2 separate regions of the Homo sapiens genome follow, and region 1 is linked to region 2. Evidence: fine-mapped expression QTL. Tissue or cell type: fibroblasts. Region 2 holds a variant in brackets; the other region holds the start of a gene. All regions are shown on one strand. Distances are between the middles of the regions.

Region 1 (8,109 bases), 180 kb before region 2:
CATTTGAAACAGGACAACTGAAGCTATTTTATACAGAAGATTCACACACACACACACACACACACACACACACACACACTCTTCTACAGAAGATGGCTTATATATATTTACACACACTCTTGAAACTTCTTCATACAAAATAGTGCATAGCCCACAAACCTAAGAATCCTAAATTATCTTTATTACCAATGTATTGTTTTTAGTGTTTTATTTCTAGACTGTAGCCTCAATCCCTATTTTATAGCTTCAAGCTACCACTGAATTTATTCTGAATAGAGAGGCAGTTTCTTTACATGAGGAATAAAAGATATCTGTATTCTTTAGAATGTTACATGAGAAATAACTTCAGTCAACTCTTCGGCAAATACTCAAGGCATTACTATCACTATTAATGTTTTAACTCATTGACTGACTAGGAATCTTGCCTTTTTTCCTTTCATCCCAGTAAATACCTTGTAGATTGGCCAAAATTTTGAAAGTTAAAAATCAGTTTGGCTCATCATTTCTAATCAATTATCTTACTCATCAGTCAGGTTGATAAATTTTCACTCCACTTTTATTCATTCATCCATCCAAAAGATCTTCATTTAATTCATATCTATGACATATCTACTATGTTTACATTTCTCTGAGAACAGTCAACTCCCATGCTACACATGCCCAAACAATTTTTTCCTTCCATTGACAGGCATTATCTTAAATTTAATACAGTATTATGTCATGATTTATCCAGTTAAACACAGACATCCAGAAATAGATTCAGTGTCCATCCAGACAGGAAGTAGGCACTAAATATCAGTAGTTATAATGTCATGGATCAGGAAACTATGACAGGACAACAGAAATAAAATTGCTCCCTCCTGAGACCTTGCCAAGATCCTCTGGCAGACCAAAGTTGTCGGCTCCACTCCCTAATTCTTCACCCACAACTCTCTCATGCAATGAAAATTATGCTTTGCAAAATCATTCCAAAATGTATGGGTCTGTGAATGTTTTATGCATTCCTACTGTGATTTCTGGTATTGAGGATGCTTAACAAGAGGCTAGGGCTTATTCTACATGCTACAGACAACTCGTAGACTTTTATAGGTGCTCTGAGTTAAAAGTAAAAATTCCATTATGTTTATACTCTATCTGAATTCATCTGAATGAAGGGAACCAGCTTCACAGTTTGAAAAAGAGCAAAGACTACTATAAAATACAAAAGAAGTTAAAGATCCAATAACTAATCTCAAAAGTCCATTTATAGCAAAGAAATATAAAGAAGTACCAATTTTATTCACCGTTTACAGATGACCCATCAGCTCAGCAGACAACATATTAAACCATTCACTTAATTTTATTTGCATTGAAGATACATACATGGAAGAAAATGGCTTAGACTTTGGACGCATTCAGACCCTAGTTTGACTTTAGTTCCCACCTATCAGTCACTAGCTAAGTAACTTTTAAAAAGGTATTTGCAACTCTGAGCCACAGTCCTCATACATAAACTAGGAACAATGTCAACCATGACCCAGGGTTGCTTTAAGGGGAAAAAAGTTAAGCAATATATATAGCAGTAACACTTTGGAACAAGATAGGTCTTGTTATTTAATATTCCTTCCTCTTTCCCCACTTGCCTGTGTGCAACAAACTTGTCTTTGGCTTTGAAACATGAAACTTCTCCCCTCTATCAGTACACATTTTTCAACTTGTCACAAATCTGAGACATTGAGAAATGACTGCAAAAAGATGGACCCATATAACATGAGTTTTGGATGACGGTTTTGGGAATGGAAAATTATACTACATTAACGATGAAGATGCCAATTTTCCTTTTCTTTTAGATTGTATATTGTAAGTAAAACTATCACTTTTTTTTTTAGGCCTTTAGGTTAAACGACGGGATATGGGATCAATTCCAATTGCTATTCCTGATATGCTCCTTAGCCTGTTCTTTAAGAGGGTTGATAGGTCAAAGATGGAAATAAAATTCTCAAGTCTTGGCTTAGCTGGATCCTGTCCTTAATACGCTGAGAGAGTCTAAAATGTGCTTTACACACGGAGAGACGGGGAGAGATGAAGAGAAGGTATCATAAGAAATTTCTCTAGCATAGTTGTCAGAGTACTGCAATCATTGCCATAAGGAAAAGGGAGAACGATATTAACAGAAAGGGAATCCCTTTTATATTAAGGAGGCAAGATGAGATGGAGTTGAAACTGAAAACTTTATGCTCTTTAAACCAGAAGTAACAGGCAACGTGAATCTTTCCAGGACTTGCCCTATGGTGGGGTCCACATGGGGGGTCGGGAGGTCACTAACTCCTGGTCCCATACCCAACTCACCCAGCTGGAGCTGTTCGCACGTCTGGCCGGGATTCTTTCCGATCCTGCATCTGTAAATCGCCCCGGGATTGATCACTGAAGCGTTGGCGAGCCAGTTGGCAGTGGGCGCACCCACTAGGAGCCTAAAGCGAGACACGTGCACGTGCGCTCAGACGTGAGCTGTGCTGCCCACTGAGCTCCCTGTCGCCACAGATGTGCAGTCCGCAGCAGGGCAGCTTCCCCACCTCCTCCTCCGCCCACCACCCCCGACTCGAAGCTCCAAGACCTTGCACCATAACGCACCCGGGGCGCTGCCGCCCCAAGATAAGTTAGTTTCCCTGGCAGATTTCCAGCGAGCTGGCTCTCGCAGCGTTTCCCTCCTGCCTCCTTGGGAGGGAGGAAAGTTTGAATCGGGCAGGGAATCCCTAGGGCGCCATTCTCACGCCGCTCTGAGCTGCTGAGGGCGCATCAGTCCAACTCTACTCACCATCGGTTCGCCCCGTGGCTGTGCAGCACGACCGAGTAGCCGAACAGCGTGTTGTGGGGGCCCTGGTAAAGCAGCGCGCTCTCAGTGTCCACGTTGTAGGGGCGGCCGGTCGGGACCCCCAGGCACAGCAACAGCATCACCGTCTCCCGGACGGCGGCCCTTCGGGGGCCGGGTTCGCGCCTCGCTTCCCAAGCCATGCGCTCTCGGTGGGGAACATTCAACACTAAACGGCCACTACCCCAAAGTTGCACGGGATGCGACGGTTGGCCAACGGGGAAGAACGCCCCAAGAGATGAGGCGCAGCGTGTCCGGCGCCAGCGGGCTAAAGGAAGGAGAGAGGGAAGAGGAGGGGAAGTCGGCCCACCGCGGGCGGAGCGTTCGGGCCGGCCTGGGATGCCGCGCACTCGCCCGGCCCCACTCCCGGTTTCTGCCGCCAGCCGGGAGCTTCGGGTGCTCGCGCTGCTTCTCCGGGTACGGGCCGCTGGGTGGGGTCCCGGGCGTGGTGCGGAGGCGCAGGGCCGGGCTCCGTCTCTGCCTACGCGCGGCTGCAGGGGGCGCTGGGGAACCTCGGCTGCGCAGGACTCGCGTCCTGGCCCGGGCCTCCCAGCCCGCAGAGCGCGGGATGGCTCTGGGCTCAGCAAGAGCGGACCTGATGGGGCACGGGCTTCCCCTTTTAACGGTGGTTGGGGCCTAGAAGCGGAGCTGTGTGACCCCAAACTGCGCGCCCCTCGCTGTGACCGCCCAGCCCGGCGTGGCCCAAATGCCAGCCACAAACTCGGGGAGTGGGACTGCGGCGGGGAGCCGTCCAGTTCTTTCGTTGATAGTTAAACACTGTGTCTTGTTTTTCAGGTGTAGGCAACCACTAGATAAATTATCAAGAGCCACAGATTAAAAACAAAAAACCAAACAAAAAGACTCGCCGAAGGCCCCTGGGGAACATTTTAGTGACAAAGACGTTATGGCTATTCTCTTCAAGACCCACATCTCAGCACCCTTCTATACCCACTTCCTTCCTCCCCACACTTCCTCTGCAGCCCGGGCTGCATGCGTGAGCAGGCTAGCAGCAGCCTCTCAGGCTGAACGGCAGGCGGTTTAGGCTGTGGCTGACCCCAACAGAGAGGTTGGGTTAAGGAAGCACTGTGACTTGATTCACTTTAACCGATTCGGATTGCTCCAGCTGGTAATTGATGATCCCCCCTTTTCACGCACCCACTCAGTTGCCACGGGACACACCTGCTTTTAGGGGTGTAAACCCCAGTGTGGGGTCAGGGTCCTAATGAGCCTCTGAAATGTGCCGGAGACCCACAACGCAACACACCTGAACTGGGTAGTGAGTCTCATTCTAATGCAATCCAGGTGTGCCCTGCCTTTTTTTTTTTTTTCCTTCAGCAACCAGAGAGACAGCCATAGGTGATTATTAGACTGATATTTTCAGGAGATGAAAGTCTAGTTTTTTATTGTTGCTATATGTAAAAAGAAAAGAAAAGTCTGCATCAAAGAGTGTGTCTGTGTGCTAAAACCATGCTGGAATAAATAACACATCTGACACTAATGACAGATACACAATTAAAATGCTTATTCATTTATTCAGCACATTCATGGAGCAGGCACTTGACTAGGACCACAGGATTCCACCAAGAGTAAGGCAGGACTGATACAAAGTTTCAAAAAATGTTCGCTCCAATGGTAGATAGAAAAATTTGTACTAACTAGAGAAAGATCCAGGTAAGGACACTTAAAGAGAGATTTGAAGGACCAGGAATCTTGAATCAGGCTAAGAATGGGATGAGCAATAAGGAGGGCTCCAGAGGAGCCAGGTAGAAGAACTGAGAGAGCTTGCCTGGCTAGAGTATTTAGCCACTCCACACACAGGTTGGTGTGATATGAGGCTGACTTAGGGAAGCAGGAATACATGGTGAACCTCATGAGCCAGGTTAGGAATTTTAAATCTATGTTGGGACTGACAGGAAGTTGAAGAATTTGTCTCGGTCAGCTCTGGGTTTCAGAAGTGTGAATGCAAGACTGAACACAGAAAACCTAATTTTGGAAGCCCCTGCAGCAATAAGTAGAGATAGGATAATCCCAAGGGGAAGTATTTCTCTTTCTTGAAAGAGAATGGTGCTACCATTCATGGAGAAAAAAACACTGAGAAATGAAGTTATATGCATGTATGTGTGCATGCAGATGGGGGCATGGATGGGTTAAGTTTTAGCCATGTGGAGTTTGAGATGTTTATGGAATGACAGGATATTCTAGCCAAACTCAATGCAATTATTTTCAGTCTGTCAACAGACAAAACATGAGGAATATTAACTTTCTCTTACTCTATACTGGAAAAAGTCAATACAGTGTGTGATAAATCTATTGTAAAAATGAAATGGCTTCCAGAAAGCTAACAATCAGGGCCCATGGCTGTTTCTTTCTGTAGTAGTGCTGAGTGTGTTTCTTTCTTAGTAGATCTACATGCTGATTTTAACCCAGTTCCACAATGAGCTTACAGTGTCGTTATTCTGAACTATGCAATCCTTCTTGTTTACAGCTACAAAACCTCCAGTTGAGGCCAAGGAAGTAGGTATGTTGAAGCCATTCTGACACCCTCCAGAAACTGGCAAAGCCAGATCTTCTGATCTGAACCCCTACCAGTTTCTTTCCCTCCCTTCACCAAAATCTTTTACAATGAAAGCCACTCAACACAATTCGTTTCATAGCGTAGTTTTGGTGACAAGCAGTCAGTGGAGTGGTTGGTAAGGCAGGACTTTTTTCCATAGTATGGTTATAGTTATGATTCACTACCTTTCAAGAAATAGCCACCCTACATTACCTCACGTTAGTTAGCTGAATTTCCTTCCTCCAGGGCTTGGAAAACAGCTCGCTTTTCCTAATGTTAGCAGGAATAAAGTGTGTTTCATGTTGCTTTAAAAAAAACTGAAGATACTGCTATCTCTCTGATCAATGCTTCTGAAGGCAAGTGAGGGGGTGGAGGAAGGAGAAGAGAAGGATGTTTAAGAAAGACTCATGCCTATCCCTAGCTCTCAACTCGACATAAATATTTGGGCACTCAATTATTAAATGTCATCAGATTAATATGTATATAAGTGCCCACTATATGCCAAAAAAATGCATTATGCACTAAAATTATAGTAGACAAAATACAAGTGATCTCTAACCTTGTGTAGAAAGTCCTCCCCAGTAGCGAGAATTCTAATGTGGACTCACCCTATTTTTCAGTTTTTATCAAGAGTAAGCATTTCTCCTTCTAGGAAGACTCTCTTCTCATGATACCACCTTATTAAGCTTTTTCCTGCCTTTCTATCTGGCCACTCTGAGTTTCCTCTGATGGCTCCCTTCCCTCCGCCATAAGTGCGGGAAACCCCCAGGGCTATATTCTGGAAACTCTTTCATTCTCTTTCCATCTTCCCTCTTTAGGAGATCTAACCCATTTCCTATGTCTTTAAATACCATCTAAATATAAGTCATTAACAGAATCAAAAACAGAAACGGTATACTTATTTCAATAGATGCTGAGATAGCATTTGATAAAATTCAACATTCCTTTATGATAAAAATTCTCACCAAAATGGATATAGAAGGAACATACTTCAAAATAATGAAGGCCATATATGACAAACCTACAGTCAACATCATACTGAACACAGAAAAAATGAAGGCCTTTCCTCCAAGGGCTGAAACAGACAAGGATACCCCCTCTCACCACTGTTATTCTACGTAGTACAGAAAGTCCTGGCCAGAGCTATCAGGCAAGAGGAAGAAAGGAAGGGTATCCAAATTGGAAAGGAAGAAGTCAAATTAGGTTTGTTTGCAGACTACATGATCTTATACCTAGAAAAATCTAAAGAGTCCACCTAAAAGCTGTTAGATCTGATTCAGTAAAGTTGCAGGATGCAAAATCAACATACAAAAATCAATAGCATTTATATGACAACAGTGAACAATCTGAATAAAAATCAAGAAAGCAGTTCCTTTTACAATAGCTACAAAAATGTACAATACCTAGGAATCAATTTAACTAAAAAAGTAAAATATCTATGCAAGGAAAAACTATAAATAAAACTCTGATAAAAGAAATCGAAGAGGACACAAAAACCCAGAAATATACTCCGTGATAGACTGGAAGAACTAATATTGTTAAAATTACAATACTACCTAAAGCAATTTACAGATTCAATGCAATTCCTATCAAAATACAAATGACATTCTTCACGAAACAGAAAAATTCCTAAAATTTATAAGAAACCACAAAAGACCCTGAATAGCCAAAGCAATCCTGAGCAAAAAGAACAAAGCTGGAGGCATCACACTACCTAACTTCAAAATTTACTACAAAGCTATAGTAACCAAAACAGCACAGTATTGGCATAGAAACAGACACATAGACCAATGGAGCAGAATAGAGAATCCACATATAAATCCATGCACTTACAACCAACTAATCTGTGACAAAGCTGTAAAGAACATACAATGGAAAAAAACAGTCTCTTTAATAAATGGTGCTAGGAAAACTTAATAACTACATGCAAAAAAATAAAATTAAAACTTTCTCACCACTTCTTCCTTTCCAGTTTGGATACCCTTCCTTTCTTCCTCTTGCCTGATAGCTCTGGCCAGGACTTTCTGCACTATGTAGAATAACAGTGGTAAGAGGGGGTATCCTTGTCTGTTTCAGTCCTTGGAGGAAAGGCCTTCATTTTTTCTGTGTTCAGTATGATGTTGACTGTAGGTTTGTCATATATGGCCTTCATTATTTTGAAGTATGTTCCTTCTATATCCATTTTGGTGAGAATTTTTATCATAAAGGAATGTTGAATTTTATCAAATGCTATCTCAGCATCTATTGAAATAACCAATACACCAAAACCAAATCAAAATGAATTATAGACCTGAAATTATGAAATTACTAAAAGAAAACATTGGGGAAATGCTCTAAGATATTGGTCTGGGCAAAGATTTTTTTGTGTAAGACCTAAAAAGCACAGGCAACCTGAACAAAAATAGACAAATGAGATTACATCAAGCTAAAAAGCTTCTGCACAGCAAAGAAAACATCAACTAAATGTAGAGAGAACCCACATAATGAGAGAAAACATTGGCACACTATCTGATGAGGGATTAATAACCAGAATATATAAGGAGCTCAAACAACTCAATAGCAACAAAACTAAAACCTAACAAAGAATGTAATTTCAAAATTGGCAAAAGATCTCGACAGATATTTCTCAAAAGAAGATATACAAATGGCAAACGGGTATAAGAAAACATGTACAACATCACTAATCATTAGAAAAATGAATATCAAA
Region 2 (8,109 bases):
ACCTTCAATTTCTTAACCTGGAAATTAAAAGGGTTGGATTGGATCATTTAATCTCTAAATGCTCCCCAAAGCCCCTTCTACTTACAGCATTCTGCAATTTCATTTTGCTTTTTGTACATAATTTCTCACTCCCACTGTGATATTTTTCATATATCAGAAATGTCTTATTTATTTTGTTTATGGTTCAATGTTAAAATAAATCTTTTATTTGCATAAACATTCAGGGAACATAACATTTTCCTCTTATTCAGAAAGAAGAGCACAACCTCCGGGGGATGACATACACCATAAGATCTCTCAAAATTATTGTCACATTTTTATCGCGATCATACCTTGAGAATGGGAGTCTGAACCCCTTATTTCAGACTGATAAGGAGACCAAACAGTTATCTAGAACAAATACATATATATACATTTTTTTGAGATCTCACTTTGTCCCCCAGGCTGAAATGCAGAGGTTCCATCTAGGCTCACTCCAGCCTCAACCTCCCAGGTTCAAGCGACCTCCTGCCTCAACCCCCCAGGTAGCTGGGACTACGGGCTTGTGCCACCATGCCTGGCTAAGTTTTGCATTTTTCTGTGGAGATGGGGTTTTGCCAGGTTGCCCAGGCTAGTCTTCAACTTCTGAGCCCAAGCAATCTGCCCTCCTCAGCCACCTAAAGTGCAAGGATTATAGGTGTGAGCCACCGCGCCTGGCTAGAACAAATACTTTTTAAAAAATAATTGGACCTTAAAGACAAAAAAAAAATTAAAAGACTTATAATGGCCATAACTAATATTTATATAGTACTTATCATTAAAAGACTACATGCTTTCAAAAATAGGCTCCAGAGTAGAAATAGGTTTTCTACATAAATTAACGTGATGGAACTGAAGCACCAAGAGTTACTTGCTTCTTGCTTAAGAATAGCAATTGAGGCCGGGTGCGGTGGCTCATGCCTGTAATCCCAGCACTTTGGGAGGCCGAGGCAGGCGTATCGCAAGGTCAGGAGATCAAGACCATCCGGGCTAACACTGTGAAACCCGGTCTCTACTAAAAATACAAAAAAATTAGCCGGGCGTGGTGGCGGGCACCTGTAGTCCCAGCTACTCGGGAGGCTGAGGCAGGAGAATGGCGTGAACCCGGGAGGCGGAGCTTGCAGTGAGCCGAGATCGCGCCACTGCACTCCAGCCTGGGCGACAGAGAAAGACAGCGTCTCAAAAAAAAAAAAAAAAAAAAGCAATTGAATCCAGCTGCTTTCCACTAGGTGAAGAGTCAAATATTGTAAAGTGGAAAATATCTCAGGGTGTCTGCCCATCCCACTTCTCCTTCGAGAAGGGTCACTCACTGTCTTTAGTAGCCATTTTTGTACTTTGCTCCCTGCCCATAGCTGATCCGACTGTAAGTGGAAACTCTCCCCTTGCATAGTCAATCCATTGGCTGAATTATAACAATGAATATTTCTAGTAATTGGGTGAAGAGACACTAGCTAGTTGGTCAGTGGCACTCAAGCTGGAAGGCTATGTAAGCTAGGAGTGGGTGCCACATGCACCCTGAACTATCAAGAGAAAGATAGAGGAAGGGAGGGAAACAGAGAAGGAGAGGGGTAAAAAGGGAGAAAGGGGTGGATAGGAGACAGGGAGAGTAAGAGAGAGAGGAGCGAGAGAGACAAAGATGAGGGTGGGGATTCAGACAGAAAAAGAAAGATAAAGAGCTATATCTCTACTCTTGGGTTGTATTTTAAAAATTATGCATCCCAATAAATTCTCCTCTTTAATTCAATCTAATTTGAGTTGATGATTTTTTCTTGTAAGATATCTTTCTATAAGACCTAATGACTCTCAAATCAGTCCAGGATTCTTTCCCTAAACTCTCTTTTACTGGGCCAATGTGGTATCTAGTAACTACTACTACTATTTGCAAAAGTAGGTAAGCGGCTTCCACTAACTATGAAACAGTTATCTATTTCCATAAATGATAGCTTGGCACCAAATACATTTAAAATGTGATGTGATTTTTTTTCTTTTTCTTTTTCTTTTCTTTTTTTTTTTTTTTTCACTGTAAAAGATCAATATTCTTTCTAGTCAAATTCCAGAAATAAAAAGAAGCCAAAGAATGAGTTCAGTGAGATCCTGGATTTTCCCTTTCTCTACTTTTTCTGCAGAAAGTACGTTTTTGCTCTACTAGTTGTTATTAGAAAGAATATATTATGTAAAGTGATGGAAACTACAATTGATTTATAAGAGTTTTTGTTATTTCTGATAATTTATTATGCCCCTGAGAGTACAAAACTACTTAAAAATGCTTTTTTGCATTACAAATTTTAATACACCAGCATGGGAACGATTTAGGTTGCATTGAGTTTGAAAAAGTGCAAAAATATTGCTTCTGACATCAACAATTGATCCCCTAATTTAAAATCCTTTTTCTATGTATATCTGTCAGGTTATTTGGGTATACATTGGTATATGACATCAATTAGAAAAGAACCATTATGAGTGACATAGAAAAAAAAAATGGGTAGGCAGCGGTAAGGAAAGATGGACCTCAATGGAGAGGGGAAGACAAGGATAAACTGGTTCTGAGGCCAGCTTCTCATGACCTCCAACTTCTCCAATGCTGTGACTGTTCTGTGATGGAAACTGCAACTGATTCATAAGAGTTTGTGTTATTTCTGATTACTCCCTAAGCTCAGACAAGCAGCAAACTACTTAAAAATGCCTTCTGCATTATAAATTTTAATAAACTAGTGTGGAAAAAGCTGGAGCTTATTATCACAGAGCTCAACATGCACCTTACTTGGGAATCAGAAGCTGCAGGCCTTGCCAGGAGCTGGAGGAGCTGCAGGCCCGCCACTGCTCAGCACCAATAAGGTGAGCCCTCAGACAAACAGCAACACTAGAGGGCTGCAAACAGAGCAGTGCCCTCAAGTGACCTTCCCAGCATAAAAGAATATGCTTTCTACTTCACTTCCACCTACCACATCTTATGCACTGTGTCTCTTGCACCTCACATTAACCCGGGTTAGGGTTAGGGTTAGGGTTAGGGTTAGGGTTAGGGTTAGGGTTAGGGTTAGGGTTAGGGTTAGTGCACATCTTATGCACTGTGTCTCTTGCACCTTACATTAACCCAGAAGTACGCAGGCAAAGAATAGAGGGAAATACCCTTCCAGCTTAGTTAACTCAACATCATGTATATCCACCACACTGTGGTTCTTGCTTGCTATCATCCTCTTATTGGTGAAAAACCAACAAAGCCCAAATCATAACTTCCTCATTGATTTGACAAATTATTCTTGGGTTAAAACAAGAAAAATTATAACATTACTAAGTTTCAAGTTTAGTTTTTTTTTCGCACCAGAAACACAGTGTTTTGCATACCATAAGTGCTCATGAATATTGATAAGTTGAATTACATGAAATCAGGTGCTTTACAACCCACAATATGGGCTTGACCTAATCCCTCCTTGTTATCTGTGTTATTTTCCCTTGACCAGATTGAGCCACATATTTATTTTTCATTTACTGTCTCTTGCCAGCTCTTTATTGAGTACTTGCCAGTAATATACAACATAATATAACCTATGGTTAGTTCCCATGGCTCTTGAAATTTTTCAAATTATAAAGAGAGAGTGTCTAATGACAAATAGCTGGATTTCTAAAATATTCATGTAAATAAAAACTGTATGACTGGAGTTGTTGTGCTGCACTATTCTGAAGGGATAAACACAACATTTAATTTGTTTTACATTTTGGCTGTTTGCAAAGCTTTCCTGGGTTGTACGGGTCATTTTTATGTAAGATAAATCGACATGTCTCCTGTTAGTAGAGCTCTGCTTTTTCCAATAGTTTCTTAATGTTTGAGAAGTCATGGAATCCTCATAAGAATGTATGAAAGTTATGTACTCTCTCTCTCTCTCTCTCTCTCTCTCTCTCTCTCTCTCTCTATATATATATATATATATATATATATATATATATATATATATATATATATAGATGATTTCATACAATTGTAAAGGAGTCAGAGACCCTCTGTAGCCATCTACAGATCCTCTGGAAAGCAAATAGACCTCAAATCTAAAAACTTCTATTCTTGACTAATGATGATCGTTATGAAGAAGATACTTGAAATCTCTAAGATATTAATTCAAATGTATCATAACTACATTAAAATCTCCTCGTGGGGGTGGAAATACTTAAATTACATTAAAAAAAAAACCTGCAAGCATCTCTACCAGGCAGTGACTCTGTGACTCTGACACCGTTTTGGTGTTTACAGGCTGCCTCTTCCATACTGTCTGTGTTTTTATTTCTTTTCATTACCATTTTGACCACCTGCCTGGTGTTCTAACACAGTTCTTTCTAACTTAATTGATGCCCAATTCGTGTGTTTTAATACATTTTAAATTACCACATATTATATGGATCTTACTCTTTATGAAAATGTTCTCAAATTTTTAAATCATGTTTTTACATTTGATGCATGAACCTCAAAATTATTTTCATTCCATGTGGTGCTGATCTAATGTCAAGGTTTGGATACTGTTGACAATCTCCAAACAAAAGAAGAGATTTCTGTTTTAGTAATTGATCCCAGTTGCTTTTAGAAAGTAGGTTCTCATAATTTAAAAATGTCCAGTTTCACAAGGAGAATTTTTTTCAGCCTACACACATCTGTATAGATTGTCCATCGTCTAAATCACAAAGCAAGATTCTGATTTTTAATTTGTTCTGGCATGAAATTAGGTGCAACATCTGTTTTGCACATGTTTTAC[C/A]TTTTTATCCCTTTTGCTCATTACTGCAGTTTTCCTACCCAAAGATTTCCAACTGAAAATGTTTTTGAAACCTTGATCTGTATTCTTAAAGGTAAGAAAATTTTTTAAATTAGTTTTCTGTGCTTAAAAAATTAATAAACGTGTTACATTGCCAAAGTGAGTAAATCCTCACTTTAGTAAGGTGATCCTCACCAAATTATAAAAAAGAAGCACTTACATATCACTGTGTCTAAAACTGGCTTCTCTTTAGCAAGGTGGTGAGGAAGATATAACGTATTACTGAGGTGTTACCATGCCCTCCTGACATAGCTGTAGTTTTGCCTCGGATGAGGCAATGTGGACACCATACCCTCCTGCATAGGTTCTGCTTTGGGGGTTGGCCAGAGCTCTGTCTCCCTGAACTCCATCCAGCCGAAGCCTGTGACTCCCAAAAAGGTAAGAAAGAGGGAAAATGGGTTGAGAGGCTGTTACTGATATGCTGCATTAGAAGATGAAAACTTCATAGTAAAATATCATAGGTGGGGACAAAAGAGAACAGTATATTCTAAAAAATTTTACTGAATCATTTTTTTTTTCACATACAGTCAGGCAGCCATGGGGATATGTTCTGAGAAATGCATTGTTAGGTGACTTCATCATTGTGCAAATATCATAGAGTATTCTTAGACAAACCTAGATGATATGGCCTATATACACCTAGACTATGCAGTATAGCCTATTGCTCCTTTGGCTGCAAACTTGTCCAGCATGTTACTGTATTGAATAATGTAGGCAATTTTAACACAATGGTAAGTATTTATGTATCTAAATATAGCTAAATATTGAAGAGGTACAGTGAAAATATGATATGAAAGATTTAAAAATGGTATGCCTGCATAGGACACTTACCCCTGAATGCAGCCTGCAGGACTAGAAGTTGTTTTGGGTGAGTGAGAGAGTGAGTGATGAGTGAATGTAAAAGCCTAGGATATTACTGTACACTACTGTAGACCTAATAAACACTGTGCACTTAGGCTACACTACATTATTTTTAAAAACTTTCTTCACTAATAAATGAACCTCAGCTTACCCTAAGTTTTAAATAAACTGTAATTTTTAAAACCTTTTGACTCTTTTGTAATAACATAACTTAAAACAAAACACATTGTATAGGTATACAAAAATATTTTATTTATATCTTTTCTATAAGCTTCTTTCAATTTTTAAAATTTCATCTTTATACTTTTAAACTTTTCATTTAAAATGAAGACAAAAACAAACACGTTAGCCTAGGCCTACATGGGGTCAGGATCATCAATATCACTATCTTCCACCTCCACCTCTTGTCCCCCTGGAAGGTCTTCAGGAGCAATAACATGCATGGAGCTGTCATCTCCTATGATAACAATGCCTTCTTCTTCTGGAATGCCTCCTGAAGGACCTGCCTGAGGCTGTTTTACAGTTAACTATTTTTAAATAAATAAAAGCAGTACATGCTAATAATGATAAAAAGCATAATAAATGCATAAGCCAACAACCTAACATTTTATTATCATTATTAAGTATTATATACTATGCATAATTAAATGTGCTAGACTTTTATACTACTGGTATGGCAATAAGTTTGTTTACACTAGCATCACCACAAACACTTGAGTAATGTGTTGTACTATGAGGCTACCATGTCCCTAGTGATAGAAATGTTTCAGCTCCATTATAATCTTAGGGGACTGCCATTGTATATGCAGTTCGTTGTTGACCGAAACATTGATATGCAGCACATGACTGTATTTTTCCTTTCTTCTGCCCTCAGATTTTCAGCTGCTAAGCAGATTTCTTTTCTTTTCTTTTTTGTTTTTCTGAGACAGAGTTTCGCTCTTGTTGCCCAGCCTAGAGTGCAATGGTGCGATCTTGGCTCACTGTAACCTCCATCTCCTGGGTTCTAGTGATTCTCCTGCCTCAGACTCCCAAGTAGTTGGGATTACAGGCACACATCACCATGTCTGGCTAATTTTTGTATTTTTAGTAGAGACGGGGTTTCACTGTGTTGCCAGGTTGGTCTTGAATTACTGACCTCAGGTGATCCACCTGCCTCGGCCTCCCAAAGTGCTGGGATTACAGGTGTGAGCCACTGTGCCCAGCCTAAGCAGATTTCTAAATTCCTTGCTTAGAGATACTTGAAACCCTTTCCTTCTCTCCCTAAAGATTCTGCTGGGTGATGGGGAGGGGAGGAAAGAGGTAGATGGCTCTGAGAAGACTAAGAGGGGTAGGAGAGATTCCTTGGGATTGGAGAAAAAAACTGTGTGGGTCCCTTGTTAGTGTGTGTGTGTGTGGGGAGGGTTTGTCTCCAGGGTCAGAAGTCACATACATATGATACCATTGTGTGAAAACAATAACCATCATTCACCAGCGTCCAGAAGGAAACCAAAATAAATATACCTGAAAATTAAAGGAACTTGTATTTAAATAGTTCGCTCTTCTTCTAGTCTATAATATTAAAACTTTTATGAGCATTGTTTTCCTTTTAAATGAAAAACATTCACAAAATGAAGATGATAACCTTTTTTAGCTGTTTTCCAAAAGAAGGCCAGTTGGAGCCACATAATTTAGGTGCCTCAAGCTATCTTTCTTCTAATTACTGCATGAATTCATCTCATCATCATTATCAGGTAACTTTAAATGTACCCACACAGGCTGAAGCATTCCTGGAAGTGCATTTCTCTATGGAAGATAATGCTAGACACCACAATAAAAGAAGCCAAATGTGTTAAAATGCAAGGTGAAAATTAATAAGAAAGAATTCTGACTATCTTTTAAAAATATTCAGTATTGTACAATTGTGCACATTTATCAAATTTCTGGTTTCCCCCACATAATTAGAAAGCTCTAATTTGAAAGATATCACTTTAAATAAATATTCTGTTGTTCAATTCTTTGAGAAATCTCAGAAGCTGAAAATACTAATTTATGATAGGCGAGGAAATCACTCACCAAGAAAAACAACCTGATATCCACCCTAAAACAATGCCGTGGTTTGGTTCAACTATCCCTTACTAAGCCACTTTCAAAATTAACATTGAGAAACGGTAAATTTTTTTGACAGTATTCCTTTTGCAAAACATTAAATAACTACAGAAAACACAAAGATTTCTAAATCTTCCTAATTATGTCTTCACTTATATGCATTTTTAATGAAGAACTCAAAGTAATTGCTAACTCTGGAGTAGTGGAGTATACAAATCCATTTATTTTGTTTAAAAAACATGCAGCTGTCTCTTTGAGAGCCTTTAGGAGGTGAAGCTATATGACTCCCCACCGTGGGACATTCTTAGCACTTATAGCTTACACACAGAATTTTCCACCACTTGTTCTT

Evidence for each region. PIP is the estimated chance that this variant, and not a neighbour inherited with it, causes the effect.
Region 1: it holds the start of ITGA4, and the variant in region 2 is fine-mapped to the expression of ITGA4 in fibroblasts (GTEx, PIP above 0.99).

Annotation. Positions count from the first base shown.
Region 1 is chr2:181,452,537-181,460,645 of GRCh38, reverse strand. ITGA4 (integrin subunit alpha 4) reads right to left here and starts at 3,260. Exons shown (of 28, transcript NM_000885.6): 1 at 2,795-3,260; 2 at 2,329-2,450. The coding sequence starts at 2,991. RefSeq lists enhancers at 2,214-2,263, 2,624-2,673, 2,734-2,923, 3,644-3,753 and a silencer at 3,074-3,463.
Region 2 is chr2:181,270,751-181,278,859 of GRCh38, reverse strand. All of the region lies in intron 3 of LINC01934 (long intergenic non-protein coding RNA 1934), which reads right to left. Among named protein-coding and RNA genes, the nearest start is that of MIR4437, 31 kb to the left of the region's middle. The variant C/A (reference allele first, on the strand shown) is at 4,758.